7 linked regions of the Homo sapiens genome follow. The gene in region 4 interacts genetically with the main gene of each other region. Each region holds a gene or a part of one and is shown on either strand. Other genes may lie near its edges.

Region 1 (3,500 bases), on a different chromosome or scaffold from region 4:
TTAAGAGCCTACTTTACAGACCTCTATGCAGATAAATGTGAAAATCTACATGAAATGAAATGGATTATTTCCTAGAAAAAAACAGCTTAACAAAATTGACACCCTTAGAGATAAACTGCTTAAACATACTATATTCATAGGAAAAAAAAAAAAAGAAAAAGTGTTATCAGGGAGCTTCCCCATTTTAAAAAAGAAAAGAACTAGCTCATATGATTTTGCAGGGAATTCTACAAATCGTTCAAAGAATAGGTAATCTAAATGATCCACAGTTCTCTGTATTTGTTTTGTCTTGTTTTTTTTGTTTTTTTTTTTTTCTCAGACAGGGTATTGCCCTGTCATCCAGGCTAGGATGCAGTGGCACAATTATAGCTCACTGCAGCCTCGAATTCATGAGTTCAAGTGATCCTCCTGCCTCAGCCTCCCAAGTAGCTAGGACTACAAGTATGCGCCACCATGGCCAGAGAATTTTTAAATTTCTTTTTTGTAGGGACATCGATCATTATATTCCCCAGGTGAGTCCTGGGGATCCTCCTGGATTCAAGGGCTCCTCCTGCCTTGGTCTCCCAAAGTGCTGGATTACAGCCATGAGCCACTGAGTCTAGCCTGATGCACATATTGTTCCAAAGCACTGAAAATACTGGAAAAACATCCGAAATCTTTTATTAAGCAACCATAATACTGACACCTAAAACCTGATCAAAAGACAACACTCACACAAATACAGGTCAATATCAAGCTGTGCTTCATGACCTATATCCTCTTAAGTGATTCTGATGTCACAATTGGCTTATCTGGCCAGATATGGTGGCTCACATGTGTAATTCCAGCACTTTGGGAGGCTGATGCGGGAGGCTTGCTTGAGTTCAGGAGTTCAAGACCTGCTTGAGCAACATAGCAAGACCTTGTCTCTAAAAAATATTAAAAAATTAGACAGGGATAGTGTCACACCCCTGCAATCCCAGCTACTCAGGAGGCTAAGGCAGCAGGATCCCTTGAGCCCATGAGTTTGAGGTTATAGTGAGCTATGATCATGCTACTGCACTCCAGCCTGGGTGACAGAGCTAGATCCTCTCTCAAAAAAAAAAAGAAAGAAAAAGAAAAATAGCATTATTATATATCATGAGTCTGAATGTCTAGTTGAGCCTAAGACCCCTAGTGAGTACTACACTGCTTATAATTATTATTATAAAAGTGAATAAAGGCATGAAATATAAAATCATGTTTTAGAACATGCATACTACTGTATTCTTTGATCTTTATAGTACTGACATCTTAAAGTATATGCCTTTGCTATTTTATTAATCTCTTATAAAAATAAATTCAATATTTACTGAATTTACTGAATTGCCAGTATTTACTGAATTCCAAGAAATTCAATATTTACAACATAGAAAGACAAAAGTATATGTTCTCAAACTTTTGAAAATCAGATCTTTTCACAATCGAATGTAGAGGTTGGCAAGCTTTTTCTCTGAAGTCATTAGCAAATATTTTAGATTTTAGAGGCCATACAATCTCCGTTTCAACTATATACAACTCTGCTGTGGTAGCTGGAAATCAGCCACAGATAAAACATAAACAAATGAGTATGGCTGTGTGTCAGTAAAGCTTTATTTAAGGACACTGACATTTGAATTTCTTTTTTGTTTGTTTGTAGAGGCGGTGCCTTGCTATGTTGTGTAGGCTGGTCTCAAACTCGTAGCCTGAAGCAATCTTCCTGCCTTGGCTCCCAAAGCACTGGGATTATAGGCAGGAGCCACCACACCTGGCCTGAAATTTGAATTTCATGTAATTTTCACAAGTCACAAAATATTCTTTTCAATAATTTGAAAATGTGAAAACCATTCTTAGTTCAAAAGCCTTATAAAAACAGACAATGGACCAAATTTGGTCTTTGGGCTGTAGTTTGTCAACTCCTAATTTAATGAAAGGCAGAGACCCCATCCATATATGACAAACATATGTACGTGTATGCACAAATTTGCATCCAGTTTCTGGAAGTTGGGTCTATTTGCTCTCTAACGTCCTTGTTAACTTTAAAACTCTATGATCATTTTCAAACTCATTCTAATTAGAGGTCCTTTTTGGAATACTCCAATTACCTGAACTCATCACTCTAAGACAGGTTTTACAAAAACCTCTCCCCCACATACTGTGAGTTCTTACCTTCTTTTTGCTCTTTTTCTTTTGAAGAAATTTCAGGTCATTAGCGGAGTTAGCATATTCTATCTTTTAATTTCTACACTACTTCAAAGGTCTTCTAACTGTTCCATTTTCTACAAAGCATCCCACACAATGTGCTCATATCAGTCTTTCTAACACAAAGAGTGCTCAAAAGCCAACTGCCTGCTGTTTTTTATTTAATTTTTTTCAGTGACAGGTCTTGTTCTGTAGCCCATGCTGGAGTGCCCAGGCAAAACTCAATGCAGCCTCAAACTCCTGGGCTTAAACAATCCTCCAGTTTCAGCTTCCTGAGTAGCTGGGACTACAGGTGTGTGCCAGCATGCTCAACTACTTTTTAAATTGTTTGTAGAGATGGGAGTCTCGTTATGTTTCCCAGGCTGGTCTTGAACTCCTGGCCTCAAGTAATCCTTCTGTCACAGCCTCCCAAAGTGTTGGGATTCTGGGTATGAGCCACTGTGCCAGGCCTGTTTTTTTTTTTCTTAATTAATTTTTTTGTCCATTTTAAAAAATAATTTTTCAAAAAAGGTTAAATAAAACCTTAGCCTGGCTTTCAAGATGCTCTATTGTATGGCTACTGATATGGTTTGACTCTGTGTCCCCACCCAAATCTCATCTTGTAGCTCCCGTAATTCCCATGTGTTGTGGGAGGGGCCTGGTGGGAGATAATTGAATCATGGGGGTGGGTCTTTCCTGTGCTGTTCTCATGACGGTGAATAAGTCTCATGAGATCTGATGGTTTTATTTTTATTTTTTGGGGGATGGAGTATTACTCTGTCACCCAGGCAGCCTGGAGTGCAGTGGCACAGTCTTGGCTCACTGCAACCTCAGCCTCCCAGGTTCAAGTGATTCTCCTGCCTCAGCTTCCCAGGTAGCTGGGATTACAAGCACACGCCACCACTCCTGGCTAATTTCTGTATTTTTAGTAGAGATGGTATTTCACCACGTTGGGCAGGATGGTCTCGAACTCCTGAACTCAAGTGATCCACCCGCCTTGGCCTCCCAAAGTGCTAGGATTACAGGCATGAGCCACTACGCCTGGCTGAGATCTGATGGTTTTAAAAATGGGAGTTTCCCCGCACAAGCTCTCTCTCTTTGCCTGCTGCCATCCACGTGAGACATGACTTGCTCCTCCTTGCCTTCCGCCATGATTGTCCCCAGCTACGTGGAACTATAAGTCCATTAAACCTCTTTCTTTGGTAAATTGCCCAGTCTTGGGTATGACTTTATCAGCAGCATGAAAATGGACTAATACAGCTACTATTCCTCTGTACCACCTTACGGACTCTTACCAAGTGAAATTTGTTCACTGTTAAAAG
Region 2 (3,500 bases), on a different chromosome or scaffold from region 4:
TGAAGGGGCCCTTTTTTCCCTACTCTAGCCCCAGAATCAGTCACTTCTCCAAGAAGCCCTGATTCACTTTAATGAATAATAGGTTTACTTTCTAAGGTCTGGGTGGTATTGGTATTTTAACTCTAAAAATGAAAAGATATGCTTTAGAGAATCACCGTCTTCAGATCCGTTCATGAAAGAGGTACACAAGATTCTACTTGGAATGACAACATTATAGGAGTTCTGAAAGAAAAGGGCACTTTGGAATGTATAAGCAAGTATCTCAGCTTGGTCAACCACTATGACTTCCTCTATACAGCTCACTCACCCTGACTGTAGAGACTAAAACACTTTAACTGAGTCTTTACAGTCAAGACATTCCATTTACTTTCTCTGAAGGCGTATCCAACTCTAAAAGAATGTGAAGATATTCTTCAAATTCCTTAGAAGGTTATTTGTATTTTGTCTGCTACCAAGCTGCTACGTATGGCATAAAAACTTTCCTTTATGCTACTAACAGAAGCAAGTAAAACACCAACAGCAAGGGTATCATGGACTAAGGAAGATTCAAGAATACAGAATCCAAAAAGTCTGTTTCTAGTCTAGACCTAATACATTAAAACGGCACTTAGGCTAATCTTATCCAAACACAATGGCCAAACAAAAGTAATCAGTGTGAAATGCAAAATTTACCTGGCTAAGTTATATTAAGTGATCTGTGAAACAAAGATACAATGGAATCTTCTTTTCTAACATGAATTTTTAAAATACTTTAAGGTCTTTATCCCCAAAGCTTTCTACAGACAAAAAGCAACTAAAGAACAAACAATCTAAAGTACAAATCTATCATTCAAAAAGATGGGGGATGAGGGGAGACAAGAACAAAGGTAAAAATCATTCTGCATACATATTTTTAAAACAAAATTCACCTGGATTCTTTATTAATTAATTAATTTTTTTAATGTTGGTGTCTCACTCTGCTGCCTAGGCTGGAGTGCAGTGGCACAATCAGAGCTCACTGCAGCCACTAACTCCTGGGCTCATGTAATCCTCCTACCTTAGTCTTCCAAGTAGCTGGGATTATAGGTAGGTAGAAGCCACTGCACCCAGCTCCAGAAATGTTTCTTTTTAAAGTACAGACTCTGCATTGAATTGTAAATTTTCTTTCAATAGTATAATGCACACTGTACAGAGGCTTTTGGGACACAGGTTTTTAAAACCACCAAGGAGAGTTAGCAAATATAAATGACAATTATGTACTTAAGTAACAGAAACTTAATTTCATATATATATATTATTTATGATATATATTAAATAACCTGGGCTTCTGAAGTATACACATTGGATAAAGGAATATAATGGAAAAATATTGACCCAGGAATTAGGAGACATGAGTTCTCATGCACAAACTCATTGTGCAACCTTGGGTAAATTAGTTAACCTTTATGGACTTTCACACTGTCCTCTGCAAAATGAGGCTATTGGAGCTGATAATTTTATACTTGTTTTACTATTTCATCTGTTATCATAAATACTTATCATTTCACTACATATCATCAAGAAACAGACCTTAAGCTAAATAGGAATGAGTATTCTTCATAGCAAATGCCCTTGTGCTCCCTGCAAGATAATTCTATCAGAAGAATAACTTGCATTTTAAAACAGCTAACACTTACTGGAGATCTACTGTGTGTGTCAGGCACTGTGCTAAGCTCTTTACATGCATTAACTCACTGAATCCTCATCACGTGCCTCTGGTAGGTATTATTGTCCCTCAGTGTGGACAGGACTCGGAGAGGTTAGTCTGTCCAAGGTCACAAAGCTGGTAAATACAAAGCTAGGGCTCAAACCAGGAGTGACTCCAAAGTCACCTTACTACCTGGCTATTCCACCTCCTAATAAATAAATCATGAGCCCAATACATTCTTATTTAATCTCTGGCAGGTACTAATTTTTCCCCCCTTTTTCGTAGAGATAAAATTGCTACAACTGGCAGCCAACCAAGAAACAACTTCAAATTAATCATGTAATCAATCTTTTTTCTTTTCTTTCCTTTTTTTAGACAGGGTCTTGCTCTGTCACCCAGGCTGGAGTGCAATGGCACGATTTCGGCTCACTGCAACCTCCTCCTCCTAGATTCAAATGATTCTCCTGCCTCAGCCTTCTGGCCTCAGCTGGAACTACAGGCACATGCCACTGTGCCTGGATGATTTTTCTATTTTTTGTAGAGGCGGGGTTTCACCATGTTGCCCAGACTGGTCTCAAACTCCTGAGCTCAGGTAATCCATCTGTCTTGGCCTCCCAAAGCGCTGAGATTACAGGCTTGAGCTACCGCACCAGGTCTGGTATCCATGTCTTAAAGAGAGGTGTGTTTTTGGTTATGAGCAATATTTCCTTTTAATAAAACAAAAGGAAACAGCAAAAGTCACAAAACCTAGAAGACCAGCAAGTATCTTAAGAAGTAACACTGTCTTATTATTCATTCCCCGGCCTTCAGGGGAGACCTCATTACAATTACCCCAGGGTAGGAACTGGGGAGCAAGTGAGGGGGCTCCCAGAGAACAGGTCTTCTGACAGCATCAGTGTTGGTTCCCAGTCTCCCTCATTATTTCGCTTTGACTGCATAACTCTGAGTACCAACATAAATTTTCAAAGACAGACTGAGGCCTAACAACAAAGAGTCTTTCTTGCTTCATGTTGGGCCACTTCAACTAGCTAGTCTGCTCAATGGTAGAACAACTGTGACTTAAGTGACAATCCTCTTGCTGGTTATATGGCATTTTAAAAAGCAGGGTGAATATGATCACCTACATACAAATCCATGCACTGGAAAATAGCTACTATGGCTCACTTTCATCCCCCCAAGAGCCCAACTTGGGCCTTTTCCTATATGTTCTCAATACACTTCCTCAAGACACAAGCTGTCTCTCAAATAAGCTCTCAGGCAGAAAATCTCTCTCTCAGATGACTATCAAGCCTAGAAATCACCATTTCTGACAAGCTATGAACAGTGAGGGTATTATACCACAGAACAAACCAGGATCCACAAATAAAGGCACAAAAACCAAAACATCCAAAGAGATAGTCATTTGGATGGGGATGAATTTCATAAGCAAAAGTACCTATTTCAATTCTCTTGATTCCTCCTATAAACAAATTTCTCTAAAACACAATGTCTTTCAACCAAAGAGAGTATTGATTTCATATACTGTCTGACCCTCAAGCCCAATTTCAGTGTCAAATCTGAGCTGATGTTCTCAAAAAGTTGACAGAAATTACAAAGCTGAGCTTATGAGCATTGGGGATCTCCTCTGTGTCTCACTCAGGCAGAGAAGAAAAAAAAGAGTATCAGAACATTACCCTTCTTTGATCCGACCCTGGAAGATGCACTGAAGAATTTCTTCACTGTGGTAACCTTGCGGGTCTTCTCGTTGGTTTTCTTTTCTTCAAACTTGGAGAATGTGAGGGATTGGGCCCCTTGGCTGCTCTGACTGCTGGCAAAGGCCTCTTCTTCCTCCCGC
Region 3 (3,500 bases), on a different chromosome or scaffold from region 4:
ATTGATGAGTTTCGTCAAGTAAACAAGGGAGTGCTCCCATGTTCTTATTTTTGATTTTTTAAATTGCTAACCAAAGACCTATTTAGTTCTCATGCAATTGCATCAAAGCAACAAATACTTACACTCTGAACTACATTGACAAAACTTTTCACAAAAATTTTGTGCTATCACACAAGGGCACGAACTGTCACAAGGCTGCCGTGGATGATCACAGGGTTGATAGTTGTAAACATGGTTAGAGGAGCCGTCTGAGTAAAGATAACATCATGCAGGCCAATGAATCCAGGGAGATGGAAACGATCATACACAATTAACACGAGTACATTCTTCCCTACTACCTGTGGAGTGTAGCTGGCCTGCCTTTACTGAATGCATAACATTACACATATTCCGGTTTCCACAACGATGGCAAAAAATACTCTCCCACCCCCAAGTGCTTATGAGTTCCATCTAAAGCACGGCTACATCTCAGTCCCATCCCAAAGCACTTCTCCTTCAACTGACTCGGACTCACACCTTCCAGTCAGCCTCCACTTTACAGAAGAGAATTGACTGGGGATTCATCAGTAGACGTCCTCCATTCAAATTGGTTTAACATACAGAAGGCAATTATATTAGAATAACCCAAGCTCTAATCCAGTTACTATTCTAAAACAAATGAAAACAAAGCAGATATTGTTAAGCTAATAATGAGAGGAATGGAAAGATGCTAACCCTTTTTCAGCTGTATCTTTCTGCAGTGTGCAGCCCACAACCTGCAAAAACACAAAGAAAATTAAACCAAATTTCTGCGGGAAGCTACAAATCCAACAGAGAGCTGCTTAACTGGATCTATCTGTGCCATGAATACAGGAATGCGTTAAAGCCAAGAGTCATGCCCTGCCCAGTTTATATTTGCCATCAGTTTGAAGCAACTCAAACAGCTTGATGGCTCAGGCTGCCCCAGGTGTGGCAAGACGTCATTTCCTGTGTTCATCCATGACTCCTGGTCAGAACTCCTGAGCTCCCAATGCTGCACAAAGCAGCAGGTGTGTCTGCCTGTTGATTTATTCTGATGTGGATGACACTGATCACTTCCTCTTATTTCAGGCATCATAAACCAAGCAAGTGAACTACGTGGTCAGAAATAATTCAACCAAAATTTCAGAAGCATCTCCTAAAGCCTAAAAAATAAAAATAAAAACTTGACTTTAAAAAAATTCTAAATTGGGTTGGCCCTACACTTATTTTTGTTAAAGTAAGAAAATGTAACATGAGCCTGTACACAATTTAAGAAGCATAATCTAACTGCACCCTTACCTACCCAATTAGGTTTCTCATTTTTAAAAATGTGAGGTAGAGGTATGGGGAGATTAGAGCAGATAGTCCACTCATCAATTTTTCTGGTTCTACATTTACAAATCAAATCAGCCTGAAAACATTCGCTAAGGTGAAAATAACATTCACACAAGCTTAAAGTAGGGTACCCATTAGGAGTATCGGAATGCAATGCCACACAACTTAGAAATTCAAGCTCCTGGAATAAAAGATACTTCTAAAAACTGGCCCAGAGCTCACATCAGAAACACAGAACATTTCATGATGTTAAAGTAATTGTTTACGTAACCTTTACTGCAAAAGCTACTAAATATGTTTTTCTTAACCCAAATGCAGTCTGGTAACCGTAATTTTTATGACTCTTAACATACCAAATATACTGAAGGCTGCTGTATTCTTATAGAAAAATACTAGCAATTCCCAGTGGAAATAAGATTCCATAGTTCTGTTTTTGATGGCAGTTTAAGGTTTTTTAAAAATAGACTAAGTAGAAACCAACAACAGCCCTTAGGAAGGGCCTTGCCTGCAGTGTCTATCTATGTTGACTTCTCTAAGGAGCTTCATGACAGACTCACCGGTGTTTCCTCTTCTTTTTCCTTGGAGGAGTATCCACATCCTCAGCGGGAGCTGGAGCTATGATGCTAGATTCTTTGACTCTAAACTCATACACCTGACAAGAGGCACAGTCACAGAGCCATGAGGACAGTCTTATTTAGGCAAACCATTCTTATACTCATGCATACCAGAAAAATGTCTTTGTCTCTTCTGTGACACTGCTAGATGCTGGGGATATAACACACATCGCTGTCCCTACCCTCACATTAGGGGTAGCTGTAATTATATTCTGGTCAAGAACTGTGATGCTAAATTTCAATTCTTACTAGCTTTTAAAAGCTACTGCTATCTAACCTTAAAAGTCTACATTGGGGAAATTCTGTAACATACCTGGAGAATAATTTTCATTCAATTCCCTCTTGGGAAGAAAAAAAAATTATTTTTAGGAGATGAATAGGAGCTTAGTAATAACCAAGAATTTTCTTTGTTTGGACAACGAGTACAGTTTTATCTCTATGTTTGAAGCTCTTTTAACAACATTTTTATCGGATATCTTACCTGTCTACATGTTTTGGTCCCAATTAACCTAGCAATGGCACAGAAATTGTCATAGTAAGTGCCAATGAGGACTCTAAACATTGAGGCTTCAGCACCACTCCACTCCACATTCTCAGGAGGTTCAATATTTGGCTTCATCTTTATTGGTGTTTGACACCGAGAATTTGCTTCTACAAAACCAAATGTAAGCACTGGTCAAGAAATGATTGGAAATAATATTAAGAAGTACAATTCAGGGTGTGCTTAAGAAAAAAGCGAAAAGATGAGGACAACTCAAATCCAATCGGCAAAACACTAACCCATCGTAGTTCACATTTTCCAACAAAACTACTCACAGAACGTCAAGAATATTAAACCAAATGATCCAAATTTCATTATTCCCTACCTGAGAAAGATCGAAAAAAGAAAATGGCACAAAGAATGAGAATAAAGTGCATCATCAGCTTTCAAACAACCAAGCAGGGCAAACACCACAAGCTAGGGTACGGGTGCAGGCAGGAAACAGAAACAACACAGCTACACATTCTTGAGATAACTCTGGTCTTTATACTGAAACTAACCAACTAAGAAAATTATTCAATGCATTATACATCCTTAATCCTCACAACACGAACTTTCACAGAACAGTAAAACCCAGTTATTAGACGTGTCTTACCAGAGGAGCTCGAAGTTTCATCTTTCTTCTCTTCTTCTTCTTTATCATTGTTCTCTCCCCCCGTTTCAGTCCCTGCTTCCCTATCACTGTCTGTATCCTTTGATTCCAGCACATTAATGGTGGGGGTGCTGGGCCTGCTACTGTTATTGGGAAGCCGTCCTCTTCTGCGGCCTCCTGGACGTTTTGGTGGGGTCTTTATCCGCTCAGCGGTGAGAGCAGCAGCAAACTCCTTTGCTCCCTCCTACGAAATGAAAAATGTCAACATCAGGGCAAAGTTCTAAAACTCATTTTGATGGAAGAGAAAAAAAAATACTATATAAGCCAGGTTAGTCAAAAAATGTATCACATTATCCATTTATCACAAATAATCATTTGCATGTCTAATATACTTGTTTTGATATGCTTTTGATAGTCT
Region 4 (2,854 bases):
GAAAATAAGGTAAATTATCTAGAAGAGAATTATTTCCAACACAGGCTGGTTCTTTCTAAGCAGCTTACTATCCTTTTCTTAGCAATATGGCTTGTTTTCTCTTTTGCATTGTCATTAGCTATTTCTATTCAGCTATTAATTCGCTGAATTTAAGTTGAATAGCAGTTACTGATACGTTTTTCCCTACTTGGTTGTATTCGTATTCTAAATAAAATAACAGGTGGGAATCAAATAATGGATAAAAATACATTTAATTTCATATTACCTGTATTGCCCTACTATTTGAGGGATTTTTAATTTTTAATAGTAGTATATAAGCATTCAGAATTTTAAAACCAAAAGACATTTTAGAGCTGTAGTTTAAGTTCCTCAGTATGGGAAAAACAAAAGGAAAGCCATGGACACTAATTGTCTAAGGTCAACTAGACAATTGAGAAACGGCCAAATTAAGGCTCAAATCCACTTTTTTAGATGGCTAGCACAATATTCTACTAGATACAAGACACCATGCTGTATCTTGAAGTCACTTTACCCCGGCAAAATGTAAAATAGCCTTTAGGACTGAATTAGAGTGAAGTTTTTTTGGTTCCAAAGCTGTAGACAAAAAGTCTGCCTCATAAAGTTGGTCTCCAAAGATAAATTCCAAAGAAATTTATCCATCTTTAGACACGACACCAGCACATTTTTCTACTGATACGGTTTTACATAGTTAAGGACTAAATAAAAATTGATTATTCAGAATGATTATGTTTATAATTTGTTCTAAGAAACTACACTAAAAAGATTTTTTAAAAAAGCTTCTATATTCTTTAAAATTTTCTTTGTGACCCCCACAACTTTTCAGAGAATATTGTTTACAGCACTGCCTATCACTGTTTCCATACTAAAATAATTATTTTCTCTTTATGCTATAATGAAAGTTAAATTATGCTTAATCAAAATGACTATGGCTATGGGGTGGCACTCATTTAAAATTTTTCAGCAATGAAACTTAAATTTATTACCTTTCTTCTAATGAATATAGAATAAAAGTATTGATACCTTTAAGCATACTAACACAAGAAACTAAAAGCAAAAATTACATATTTAATCTTCAGCTTTTAATAGATTATATATATTAATATTCCAGGTTTTAAGGAATTAAGTTACATTAACAATAAAAAATATTCCATATATTCCCTTATAAAAGGTTCTATTAATTCTAAGAGTTCTCAAATGGGCTTCAATAAGAATGATGGGTTTAAAGATGAAGGACATGACACGCTCAAAATTAAGAAAAATGCTGTATTTGAACTTGCAAGGATAATTGAACACTTTGGTTATAACATACTTAAAAGATTTCTGTTAAAATTTAATTTCCTTGTTTTCAAATTAAAAGGTAGAACAGTCTCCTGAAGGTAATGTAGGTGGGTCCCTTGCTTTTCACTTACTATAAACTGTGCTAACCAATACATGGAGGTGAAGGGGGATATAAAACACAAATTATTTCATCACTGAAATAATTAGCTGCTAACATGACTTCTAAAGAACAGGTATAATATAAAACTAAGAACTTATTTCAAAATATGAATAAAGGCACTAATTACAAATGTACATTTTTTAGACAGTATCTTACAGTTCACTGATTTACAATGAATGTCAGAACCAATGCTCTAGTATTAGATACTTGCTTGGGTTAAAACATTCTCTTGGAGTAAAGAATAATCAGTTTTCACGTTACTGTGACAGGAAAGATTGAGTGAAAACCTAAAAAATACTCTTAAAAAGTCTTACATGAATTTCCTAATCATGAACTTTTCCCAATCAGCACCGTCTACACTGATGCCAATTTCATCTTCAACACATGGCTAACATAAATCATTTCTAATCCAAAACTAACCAAATATTTTTTAAAGGATTTACAAAATAAATTGTATTTTAAAAATTAAATAGCAAATTTGAGTCTATACTAGTAGTTGGCAAAATACAATCAACTATTAAAAACACTTTTAATATAATGCTGATGTGGTAATATAAAAAATAACCATATAATTTGACAGAAGAAAATTGAGCCAGCCAATCTTACTAGATACAAGAAGGCAGATAGTCATTTCATAAGAACAAATACAGGAGTACTAAGTATGCTTTTTCTCAGGACAGACTTAGGGAAACTACCCTCAGTACTTACGGTAAACAACACAACCAAGCAGAAATTCAGGCAAACTGTGCTTAGGTAAATGGCATTTTCTTAATTCCCCCACATCCCACACACACCACAAACCATCCATATCGATTTATGTCTGCTTTTCGCTCATGTTCTTGATTATGGGTTATATTAAAAACTAAGTTAAACTACACTTATCCTCTACTTGATACAGAATCACTAAGAAAACGGCTTAAAACAAAGTTAAACAACTACTTTCCAAAGCCCAGAAAGCTTTCCTTTGGCCACTGTTCAGTTCAAGGGTGTGCTCCAACTAAAGATAAATCAGAAAAATGTTACCACATTCGACTAAATTAACTTGACTAAATATAATAAACCAAGCACACCTGAAAAAAGAGCAAAATTTAAATCAACTTACAAAAATATTAAAATTAAAATACCAATTTTGAACACATATTTTGATATTATGAACTTTGTATCTTTTTTATCAAAATTAAAAAGTACTGCAAAAATGAAGTATTATTCTCTAAGTATTCATTTTATCCCTTTCATTTCAGCAAAATCACACATTTGAATAAACAGGATCGAAATACGACACTTGTCTTTCCTCTTAATTTAAGGAATATATTGTTTAGATTATTGTTCATATTAGACAACTGCCTCAAAAATGTTTTAATGCCATCCAATAAATAAACTTTTGATAGATTATGA
Region 5 (3,500 bases), on a different chromosome or scaffold from region 4:
GGGTGTCCTTGTCTGCCAGAGGATGGTTGGACTAGATACCCTCTCATGGCAATCGTTTTTGATTCTGCAGTTTAGTGTAGTACAGTGTCAAGACTTCTGTCACTGGCCAGGCATAGTGACTCATGTCTGTAATCCCAGCACTTTTGGGAGGCTGAGGTGGGAGGATCAGTTGAGCCCAGGAGTTCAAGGCCAGCCTGGGCAACATGTGAGGCCTTGTCTCTACAAAAAATGAACAAAATTAGCTGTGTCTGGTGGTGCATGCCTCTAACCCCAGCTACTTGAGAGGCTGAGGTGGAAGGATCACTTGAGACCAGGAGGTGGAGGCTGCACTGAGCTGTGGTTGCACCACTGCACTCCAGCCTGGGCAACAGAGCAAGATCCTGTCTTTAAAACAAAAAACAAACAAAAAAAACCTCTGTCACTGACCAGGGATCTAATGTATTTGCTGTACTGCTCACAAATGCTTATGTGGCTCAACTTTGGTATGTTACAGGTTCAGCTTGTTGGTTTAGATGAGGAGAGTTCAGAGTTTATTTGCAGAAACACCTTTGACCACCCATACCCCACCACAAAGCTCATGTGGATCCCTGACACAAAAGGCGTCTATCCAGACCTACTGGCAACAAGCGGTGACTATCTCCGTGTGTGGAGGGTAAGCGGATGCTTTATTAGCAGCCAGACAAGTGGGCTTTCTCAGCCTCAGCTGTTAGCAGTGAAAAGTCACAGAACAGACAGGGGTCAGAGGCAGCGAGTGTCATTGCAGCACAGGAGAAGCAAGCGAAGCTTAAATGGACTGGCCTCGTTTGGCTCAGCAGATTTTCTAGTATATCAAGTCAAGATTCCATGAAGTCTGGCTGCTGGCTGCAGTCAGCTCAGTCAACCCGAGGTGATGATGACGGCCTTCAGTGGAGGTGGGAATACTTGGGAACTCATATTCTGTTTGCAGCCAAGGTATTTTTGAGTAAACTAAATGAAATACCAGGCCATTGATTCTGATAAAGTGTGTGAGTGGATCTTGGAGGCTTCCCTCCACCCTCAGCTGAGCTCATCAGCAGCAGCGTCCTCTGTAGCATGGGCGTGGCCTTAGTACACCTGTGCAGAGGTTCCAGGCTGGGCAAAGTGAGAAGACCTCTCCTCTAGGAAGGTGCAGGGATGAAAATGTAGAAAACAAAGCTGGGCAGAGGAGAAAGTATGGGAAAAAGTAGCATTCAGGGAGTCCTGGGTTTATTACTGTTTTTGATAAAAATGTTTTCCCCTCATGTCTTATGTTTGCTAAGATATTTTCTAAACAGGGATTTTTTAAAAGACTTTTTATGAGGATAAGACTGGCTGATTTTTTTTAAAATTCTTGTTCCTTCAGGTTGGTGAAACAGAGACCAGGCTGGAGTGTTTGCTAAACAATAATAAGAACTCTGATTTCTGTGCTCCCCTGACCTCCTTTGACTGGAATGAGGTGGATCCTTATCTTTTAGGTAAGGGAGTTAGGGAGTATGTATTTCAGCTGGAAGAAGCCAAAATAAATTTTCTCAGATGTCACACTGGGCCATACATCCTAGAACAAGGCTCAGTGGGAAGTAGGCTAGGCGTGGAATGTGGTTATTTATTAATTCCTTTGTGTGGGTGAGCTTTCCGTGTGTATAGATCTTGTCTCTCCAGTTAGAATCTAAGGTCCTACGGTGAGGACTGAAGACTTGACTGCCTCGGTGGCTCTGCCGGTAGCCCCCACCTTGTTTTCTGTAGTCTTTATGGTATGCTGCTCCCTGGGCTGAGCAGATGAGTAAACACAAGAGGGAAGCTTGCATGAGAACCTTGGTCCCGTCAGCCCTGACTTGCACTGGTTGTTTGCAGGTACCTCAAGCATTGATACGACATGCACCATCTGGGGGCTGGAGACAGGGCAGGTGTTAGGGCGAGTGAATCTCGTGTCTGGCCACGTGAAGACCCAGCTGATCGCCCATGACAAAGAGGTAAGATGCTTTTCCATTTCGTCTTTCCTCAAATGCTTCCTGTGCCTTCCGCACAGGAAGAGGTCAGCTTGTTCTCTCATTGTTCTGCAATTTATGTAGAAAATCATAACATAACATCTTCTTGTCTAAATTGACAATAGTAATGTATCAAAAACGGGAAAACAACACTATTGTAAACTAATGCTTTTTTTTGGCTAATGTAAATGACCTATTCTACGGTCTGTCATTGTTCTTTTCATGCCAGAGGTTGCTTTTTTTAAATAACAAAGTCTCTTATAGAGGAGCTGGGAACTGATGTGATTAAAAAATAACTTTAGAGTAATACTTATCTTGAAACAGATTAGATTTGGGGAGGAAAGAAGGGAGACAGGAAGAGAAAAAATTTTCTGAGAGACAAACGTAATTATTCATTTTTCTCTATAAATGTTTTACCAAATCCTAGTATGTTCACTTAATCTTTATACTTTCATTACTGTTGGCAGTGGAGGCAATGGAATATATTTTATTTTGATGGCGATGCTTCTGTGTTTATTGGGAAAACTGAGAAGAGCTATTTGTGATTGCTTTTTTTTTTTTTTTTTTTTTTTTTTTTGAGACAAAGTTTTCCTCTTGTTGCCCAGGCTGGAGTGCAATGGCGCAATCTGGGCTCACTGCATCCTCTGCCTTCTGGGTTCAAGCAATTCTCCTGCCTCAGCTTCCGGAGTAGCTGAGATTACAGGTGCCCGCAACCACCCCTGGCTAATTTTTGTATTTTTTAGCAGAGACAGGGTTTCACCATGTTGGCCAGGATTGTCTCGAACTCTCCTGACCTCAGGTGATCCACCCACCTTGGCCTCCCAAAGTGCTGGGATTACAGGCGTGAGCCACTGCGCCCGGCCAATTGCATTTTAATCAAAGCATTCTTCTCAGTGATTTTGGAAAATCCCCATAAGTCTTTTCCTCCTACAGCCATTGCATGCTCCTGGTACTCTCATCTCCTGTGGGTACTATTTCCTGTTCTTTTCTACCTTACCCTGCACAGCTAGGGGTATTAATATCTATACAGATAAAAGGAATGCCTTGATCTTAGGTCAGAAACTTGAGGTTGTCAACAGCATAGGAAGATGTGACCCAGGTTATCATTCTTAGTAAGGGGTTGTCTTTGGCTTTCTGTACTCCTGAAGGTAAGCCCTGTTACAAGACTTCTAGAGTTGACTGCTGCTAAACCAGGGGTCAAATGAAGAGTTTGTCCCACAGAGAGGACCAGTAAGGAACTTCTGGAAACCCTCTTGGCATCAAGTTGAACAAGCGGCTACATTTTAGTTATATGACAACTTAGCCTGCTGTTGTCTGTTAGGTCCAACCCAGAAAATGGGAACTACTCTTAAGTATTTGAACTGCAGGGATTTAATCCAGGGGCTGCTTATACAGAAGATGGTAAAGCTGAGAAGCCACATAGGTAGCAGTGAGGTCATCCATAGAATGGGAGCAGCAGGAAGCTGCAGCTGCCTATAGGCCAGAGGGACCATGGGAGGAGGCAGGGTTCCTGGAGCC
Region 6 (3,500 bases), on a different chromosome or scaffold from region 4:
AATGGGAAAATAAGATCAGAATGTTTAAACCTTTTAAGAAGCTAAAAGTGGATGCTCACTCTGTCTTTTCTCAATGTAACGGGCACTATCTTTGAATACGGTAGATGTCCTCATTTCTGCAGCCAGTCAATAAACATGCTTTAAGTACCTCCTGCCTGACAGAGACTGCAAGGCTGGCGGGGAGGTTAGTGAACGAGCACTCATTAGTGGTATGATCTAGCAAGGGAGACAGACAATTAAACAATATGTTTCTCAAGAATTAGCTAAATGATTTTGTGTGCATGCCAAGCGCTTCTCTGACAAGAAGTTTAGGAGTTTACATATTTTAAAAACGTGTGGTAGAGCCTGCCACACACTTCTTCTGTATACTAACTCACACACGCACTACTCCCTTTCCACGCCTCCTGCACTCCACGCCGGGACACAGAGAACTCAGGACCTGCTCATGAAACGCCTAGGAGGGCAATGAGTCTCAGCTTTGCACTACAGTTGTTCTGCAGTCCTTTATTTGGGCTTCCTCAGGCAGGAGCTAACGACCTGCTCCAATTCCAGCCACAGCGGCGGTGTGGGGGGCTGTGTTGAAGGCAGGAGAGTGGGGCTTGTGTCTTCCGGGGTTCTGACATGTGGCCTCACACTCACACTGCAGGCTCAGCAATGGCTGAGTTTACAGAGCTGAGGTCATCTGTCCCACCTCACAGATGTGACAATTAAAGAAGATACATGAAAGTGCTGAGCACAGTGCCAGGCAGGAGGCAGGCATTAAAAATGTGAACGATGCTGTTAAAAATTCCCAAACTGTTTCTTCATCAATCCAGAGTCAGCGTGTGCGTGCCTAGTGAAACTCTATGTGTAAGGAAAGGAACGGGTGCTGGGCCTTGAGCTTCAGACAGGCCAGGCTCTACGCCTGAGTAGCCGTGTGACCTGCTGCAAGCCACCAGCCGTCCCTGGGCTGCAGGCATCTCAGTTTCCTCCAGGTCTTCTGAGGGGTTGATAGTTGTTTTTTTTTTAAATGCTGAACATCCTACTGTCCACATTACCAGTGTGTTTACCCACTGACCTATCGAAGGACCCCTTGGTTGCCTCTAGTTTTTGGCAACTATGGATAAAGCTGGTATCAACATCTTTGGGCAGATTCTTGTGTGGATATAAGCATTCGGCATAACTGGGTGAAATATCCAGGAGCGTAATGCAGTAACTGGATTGCTGGGTTGTACCTAAGAGTATGTTTAGTGTTGTAGGAGGCCGCCAAGCTGTCTTCCTAAGTGGCCGTGCCATCTTGCCTTCCCTAGCAGTGAGGGGTCCCACGGCTGCACGTCCCGTGGCACTTGGTGTTGTCCATGCTATTTTTCAGCCACTCTAACTGGCATGCGTTTCACTCTCAGGTGAACTTTCCACCGTTCTCTCATGGAGTTTTTCCTTTCACTGTACCTGCCACAGCCTGACGGTGAGTACTGGCCTCCACGGCACCCACCAGCGAGCTGCAAATATTAGCAGGGCAACTCAAATGAGATTTCTTAAACTCTATCTTGTAGATTTTTTTTTTTTTTTTTTGGAAATGAGGACACCAGAGCGTACACAGTGCAGTTGGAGTCTGTGGTTTTCTTCACTAGCTGGTGTGCGGCCACTGGACCAAGTCAGAGAACCACTGATCGACGGTGAAGATGAGATCGGTGCCACGTTCCCCTAAACTGTCCAGACTACAGCAAGTAATACAGGATTTCTGTGTTCTGGTTGACAGTTCAGAAGTATTTTTAGATTGGTTACGATAATTTACTAAAACGATCTCCAAATGCCTTCTCTAGTCTAAATTCAATGCAATAATCACTTTATATAATACAAATGGCTCTGTATATTCTCTTTGAATTGCAAATGTGAAAGAGTGAGAGGGAAAGAGATTGTGCCAAGTCTGAACCAGTTCTATATATGCATCTAGGCAGATTCTGTATCCAGGGGCAACTAATAACTGCTCCCTTCCTGGTTCCCTAGGCCTAAGGCTCTGGCCTTTCCTGCTAGAAAGGCTGGGGCCCTCTTCCCTCAGGACATGACCTACAGTGAGGACAGGCAGGAGTTAATCAGGGAAGGGGAGGGGGCGGAGACCCTAGAAGAGGACAGAATGTGTGCAAAACAAGGCGAGAGCAGGCATGGGGGGCACAGGGAGCAGAGGGCAGGGTGCAGGGCCCGAGGGGATGCAGTAAGGACCAGCGGGCCGGAGGGAGGCGGTGGAGGAGGGGCCGAGCAGGTGTGGATGAGGAGAGGCTGGGGAAGCAGGTGAGGATGGGGTGGCACAGGAGGTGAGGCAGAGGAGGGTCGGGTGTGCTGGCCTTTGCAGGCTTCCAAGAGCACAGGCCACAGCAGTGTCGTGTCATCACATTTGAAGGCCCCTGTCTCCCTGCACTGATGGGGTGAACTTAAGGCGTCCGTGTAGATGTGAGTAAAGCTATGAGGATGTTCCAGCAGCTGGGCCTGGTGCTGGCAATCTGTGCACATCCTTTGGACGCCCCCCACCCCCTACTGCCTGAGTTGGTAGGCAGAGCTCACAGGAACCCAGAGCCCAGCCTCGTGTGCACCTGCACGGTGATAAGGTTCTGTGCTACCATGGAAGAGCTGGGCATTCACAGCAGAGCTGAGGAGCTGGACAGATACTGTATGGCCAGGAAGTCTACAATGTTTATTCTATGGTCTTTTACAGAAAACGCTGGCGGATCCCAGGTCTAGGCCCCTCGTGGCTCAGTAGTTCATTTCTGTTGACTTCAAGGAGGACTGTGGGCTGACTTCAGCCCGCGAGTGGCTTGCGTCTGATACCTGAGGACGAGGCACAGGAATGGAGATGCTCCTGTAGTCACGTGACAGAGAACTTTATGTGTATGGCATGCAGTGATAACAAAGCAGGGGCCTGCATTTGGCATGTTTTCCATTTTATTCTTTCATGACTGATTATTGTGAATTAGTTATTATTTATATTGATGGTGCAGAGTGGCAGAAGCAGGCGAGTATTTGTAGAGATATGGTTTTCCCATGTTGCCCAGGCTTGTCTTGAACTTCTGGGCTGAAGTGATCTACTCACCTCAGCCTCCCAGAGTGCTGGGATTATGGGATTACAGGCATTAGCCACTGTGCCTGCCACTATGACAATGTTTTTTTTTTTTTTTTTTTTTGAGACAGAGTCTCTATTGCCCAGGCTGGAGTGCGGTGGCACGATCTCGACTCGCTGCAATCTCCGCCTCCTGGGTTCAAGTGATTCTCTTGCCTCAACCTCCTGAGTAGCTGGGACTACAGGCGCCCGCCACCACGCCCGGCTAAAGTTTGTATTTTTAGTAGAGATGGGGTTTCGCCATGTTGGCCAGGCTGGTCTCGAGCTCCTGACCTCCGGTGATCTGCCTGCCTCGGCCTCCCAAAGTGCTGAGATTACAGGCGTGAGCCATCACGCCCGGCCAATGACCATTTTTAAAAATGAGAAACTTAAGGTTTTAATTCTCGTGGAAAGAAGAACAAAGAAGTTC
Region 7 (3,333 bases), on a different chromosome or scaffold from region 4:
TGGGCGGATCATTTGATGTCGGGAGTTCGAGACCAGCCTGGCCAACATGGTGAAACCCCATCTCTACTAAAAGTACAAAAAAATGAGCCAAGTGTGGTGACGCCGTGCCCGTAATCCCAGCTACTCAGGAGGCTGAGACCCAAGAATCGCTTGAACCCAGGAGGCGGAAGTTGCAGTAAGCCATGATCATGCCACTGCACTCCAGCCTGGGTGACAGAGTGAGACCCTGTCAAAAAAAAAAAAAAAAAAAATTACAATCATCAAAACTAGAAACAATCTAAATGGGTAATTATCCATATACCTGGAAAATGGATAAACAGATACATCCATACAATGGAATCCTACTCAGCAATATAAAGGAATGGACTGCTGATACCTGTGACAACACGGATGAATCTCAAATGCATTCTGCTAAACAGAACAACTGCAGACTCAAATGCTACATACTGAATGATTCCATTTATATGACATTCTGGAAAAGACAGGCCACCAAACTGGTCTGTAAGCCAAATCAAGTCATTTTTTAATGGCACATAAGCTAGCAAGTATTTACATTATTAAATGGTTGGAGAAAACAGTATTTCATGACACATGAAAATTACACAAAACTCAAGTTTCAGTTTGCAGAAATAAAGCTCTATTGAAACACAGCCACCTGCATTCCTTCATCTAGTAATTACCTGGCTGCTTTCGTGCTACAACAGCTGAGTTCAGCAGCAGCAACAGAGACTATAAAAGCCCACAAAGCTTGAACTATTTACTGCATGGCCCTTTCCAGAAAAAAATTTGATGACACCTGGTATAGGGACAGAGAATAGCTTGACGGTTGCCACGGTAAAAGGTGGGGAAGGAGCTGACCACAGGGAATTTACTGGAGGGTGATATAGCTGTTAATTGTGGTGGTGGTAGTGACTTGACTGCATTTGCCAAAACTCAGAACTGTACACCAAAAAGTAGATTTTAAAATATTTTATTTTAAAATAAATGTCAATGAACAAGAGGGACAGAAAACACCAGTGGTTGCTAGGGGGCAGGAGAAGAGAGGAACAGAGGAACAGAGGGGAATGTCCTGGGTGGCAGAACTGTCCTATCGATTGGTTACAAAACCATGCATTTGTCAAAATTCACAGACTAGACACTAAAAAGGGTGATTTTACTGAATGTAAATTATAAACTTTTTCATTTTTAAAAAAGAGATAATGAAGGCCAGGCATGGTGGCTCACGCCTGTAATCCCGGCGGCACTTTGGGAGGCTGAGGCAGGTGGATCAGTTGAGGTTAGGAGTTTGAGACAAGCCTGGCCAACATGGTGAACCCCGTCTCTACTAAAAAATACAAAAATAGGTTGGGCATGGTGGCACACGCCTGTAATCCCAGCTACTCAGGAGGATGAGGCAGGAGAATCACTTGAACCTGGGAGGCGGAGGTTGCAGTGAGCTGAGACAGCGCCACCGCAATCCAGCCTGGGCAACTGAGTGAGAATCTGTCTTTAAAAAAAAAAAAAAAAAGATAATGAAATGAGAGGAGCCAAACATTTACCCTAAGTGGAAAAAAAAAATTGGGCTTATGATAGGTTTTCTCTTATAGACAGTAAAAAGAAGTGCCAGGAATTTAAAGCAAAGAACAGTAAGATGAGAGAGATCTCCAATATACAAAATGTTTCAAAATTTTTTTTTAGTACAACATGCTTATACAAGAGGTAAGACTTATTTTTGTATTTGATTTGATAATTTGACTTGGAATTTTTCTGTGGGAATAAAAGTGTTAGAATGCTTATTTTTAAATTTCTCAAAATTTGCAGGCAGTAAGCAAGGCCTTAAAGCCATAGAGGGCTCTAAAACTAGTTCCATAAAGCATTTTACTGTAAAAATATGTACAGATCTTTAATAGAAAAGTATATTTCTTTACAGTAGAAAAATATCTGAACAGTCAACTTTTCTTAAGACAAAAATTCAAATGTAACATACTACCTAAACTATAAATTTAGCTAAAACTGAATCGAGCTGTTTATAAGAACTGATTCCAAAATATACATATATGAATTTACATAACCGATATGTAGAAGCTCTTCAAAATCGACTGTAAATTGAAAAGTTAAAATTGGCCTTGCCTCTGCAGTTTGGAGCTGCAATGGCTGCCAGTATCGGCTGTTTTCTTGGTGCCTGAGCTGCAGGGTGGGCCTGTCGAGGAGGGGCTGCTGTCTGGGTCGCTTTCCCTCTGGCTGTCTGTGGCGTAGGTACATGAGGTGCTCAATCTCGGCCTGGAAAGAATACCTCGAAAGAATACCACACACTGGAACTCTGTGAAGAAGTGAAGACGCTAAAAGCGGGCAGTGCTGTGTTTACTTAGAGACAGTGGAGTGGGTCCAGGGCTGTCCTCGCCAGGCTGGTTTTTAAAGCACTTTTGGTTTAGGAGTCAGCTTCATCATGGTCACTTTCATTATCATTGTCATTCTCCTCATCTTCTTCCCTCTTTTCCTCTTTAAGCATTTTCAGGTATTTACTAGCTAAAATCTTCTTTGGTAATATATCTTAAAAACATAAAGCGTACATCAGCAATTGGTTATGGTAGACTATGAACACAGCAATGCACATTTCAAAATGTACTAGTTCCTGCTTTGACCTCTATAAGAGGTTCCAAAACAAGATGAAATTCAGGCTGCATTTCTGGGTAAAATATCAAAGAAACTAGCATTGTCTCCTAACGAACGCTATAGGCCTCTTTCCAGTCCAATGAGTACAAACCATGGTGTCTCTATGAGCTGCTTTTATGAGCAACCCTGCCCGACTACCTGAGATAGCCTAGGCTAGCCCCAGGGTAGACTTAAGCTCTAACTACGGCCATGTAGACCCACCCTGAGTTTTCCCTTCAGTGGCAGGCAGGGTCCCTGTAGAGAGTAAAGGACTGCCCAGCATACGCGGCCAACCAACATCTTGTGAATGTTGTTGGCTTCACTATTGTTCTAGGTGGACCACATGACAAACACATTCAAACAGAGAAGACTAAAAGTATCTTCCTGTGACAACTCATAGTACTTTGCGGCTTGGAAAAAGTAGCAAAAAGTCTAATTTTCCGTGAGAGCAGAAGGGAGGCAAGGGGTGGGGAAAGAGCTATTGATTACTAATCATTTTTTAACCAGAATGTTTCAAAGACTAAGTACCTGCAAGAAACTGAAAAGTTTCTGATTGCTGTGCAGTGTTTGCTAAATCACTGTAAGTCAGTACTTTCTTTTCCTTTCCACTGCCGTGTCTGTAGGAATAGGTGGCTAGGCATTGAACAAAGAGCTCCTAGAACAAAATGAAAAATGCAAATGAAAGGTGTGCTTTGAAAATGT

What was found.
Region 1: changes in ARL5B (region 4) and TRAPPC13 together harm fitness more than expected from each alone (negative genetic interaction), as found in Homo sapiens cells (one large-scale study listed by BioGRID).
Region 2: changes in ARL5B (region 4) and RABGEF1 together harm fitness less than expected from each alone (positive genetic interaction), as found in Homo sapiens cells (one large-scale study listed by BioGRID).
Region 3: changes in ARL5B (region 4) and EZH2 together harm fitness more than expected from each alone (negative genetic interaction), as found in Homo sapiens cells (one large-scale study listed by BioGRID).
Region 5: changes in ARL5B (region 4) and DCAF7 together harm fitness less than expected from each alone (positive genetic interaction), as found in Homo sapiens cells (one large-scale study listed by BioGRID).
Region 6: changes in ARL5B (region 4) and TRAPPC12 together harm fitness more than expected from each alone (negative genetic interaction), as found in Homo sapiens cells (one large-scale study listed by BioGRID).
Region 7: changes in ARL5B (region 4) and CHRAC1 together harm fitness less than expected from each alone (positive genetic interaction), as found in Homo sapiens cells (one large-scale study listed by BioGRID).

The regions. Positions count from the first base shown.
Region 1 is NC_000005.10:65,638,527-65,642,026, reverse strand, and holds part of TRAPPC13 (trafficking protein particle complex subunit 13), read right to left. Parts: intron 1-3,500.
Region 2 is NC_000007.14:66,775,233-66,778,732, reverse strand, and holds part of RABGEF1 (rab5 GDP/GTP exchange factor), read right to left. Parts: coding exon 3,340-3,500; intron 1-3,339. UniProt on the Homo sapiens protein: Rab effector protein acting as linker between gamma-adaptin, RAB4A or RAB5A. Involved in endocytic membrane fusion and membrane trafficking of recycling endosomes. Stimulates nucleotide exchange on RAB5A. Can act as a ubiquitin ligase.
Region 3 is NC_000007.14:148,814,792-148,818,291, forward strand, and holds part of EZH2 (histone-lysine N-methyltransferase EZH2), read right to left. Parts: intron 3,327-3,500; coding exon 3,086-3,326; intron 2,601-3,085; coding exon 2,431-2,600; intron 1,988-2,430; coding exon 1,893-1,987; intron 1,164-1,892; coding exon of another isoform or gene 1,157-1,163; exon of another isoform or gene 762-1,156; intron 756-761; coding exon 715-755; intron 249-714; coding exon 123-248; intron 1-122. UniProt on the Homo sapiens protein: Polycomb group (PcG) protein. Catalytic subunit of the PRC2/EED-EZH2 complex, which methylates 'Lys-9' (H3K9me) and 'Lys-27' (H3K27me) of histone H3, leading to transcriptional repression of the affected target gene.
Region 4 is NC_000010.11:18,676,431-18,679,284, reverse strand, and holds part of ARL5B (ADP-ribosylation factor-like protein 5B), read right to left. Parts: 3' UTR 1-2,854.
Region 5 is NC_000017.11:63,577,977-63,581,476, forward strand, and holds part of DCAF7 (DDB1- and CUL4-associated factor 7), read left to right. Parts: intron 1-493; coding exon 494-652; intron 653-1,360; coding exon 1,361-1,472; intron 1,473-1,848; coding exon 1,849-1,967; intron 1,968-3,500. UniProt on the Homo sapiens protein: Involved in craniofacial development. Acts upstream of the EDN1 pathway and is required for formation of the upper jaw equivalent, the palatoquadrate. The activity required for EDN1 pathway function differs between the first and second arches.
Region 6 is NC_000002.12:3,417,694-3,421,193, reverse strand, and holds part of TRAPPC12 (trafficking protein particle complex subunit 12), read right to left. Parts: intron 1-3,500. UniProt on the Homo sapiens protein: Component of the TRAPP complex, which is involved in endoplasmic reticulum to Golgi apparatus trafficking at a very early stage.
Region 7 is NC_000008.11:140,514,322-140,517,654, reverse strand, and holds the end of CHRAC1 (chromatin accessibility complex protein 1), read right to left. Parts: intron 3,287-3,333; coding exon 3,160-3,286; intron 2,530-3,159; coding exon 2,408-2,529; 3' UTR 501-2,407; downstream 1-500. UniProt on the Homo sapiens protein: Forms a complex with DNA polymerase epsilon subunit POLE3 and binds naked DNA, which is then incorporated into chromatin, aided by the nucleosome remodeling activity of ISWI/SNF2H and ACF1.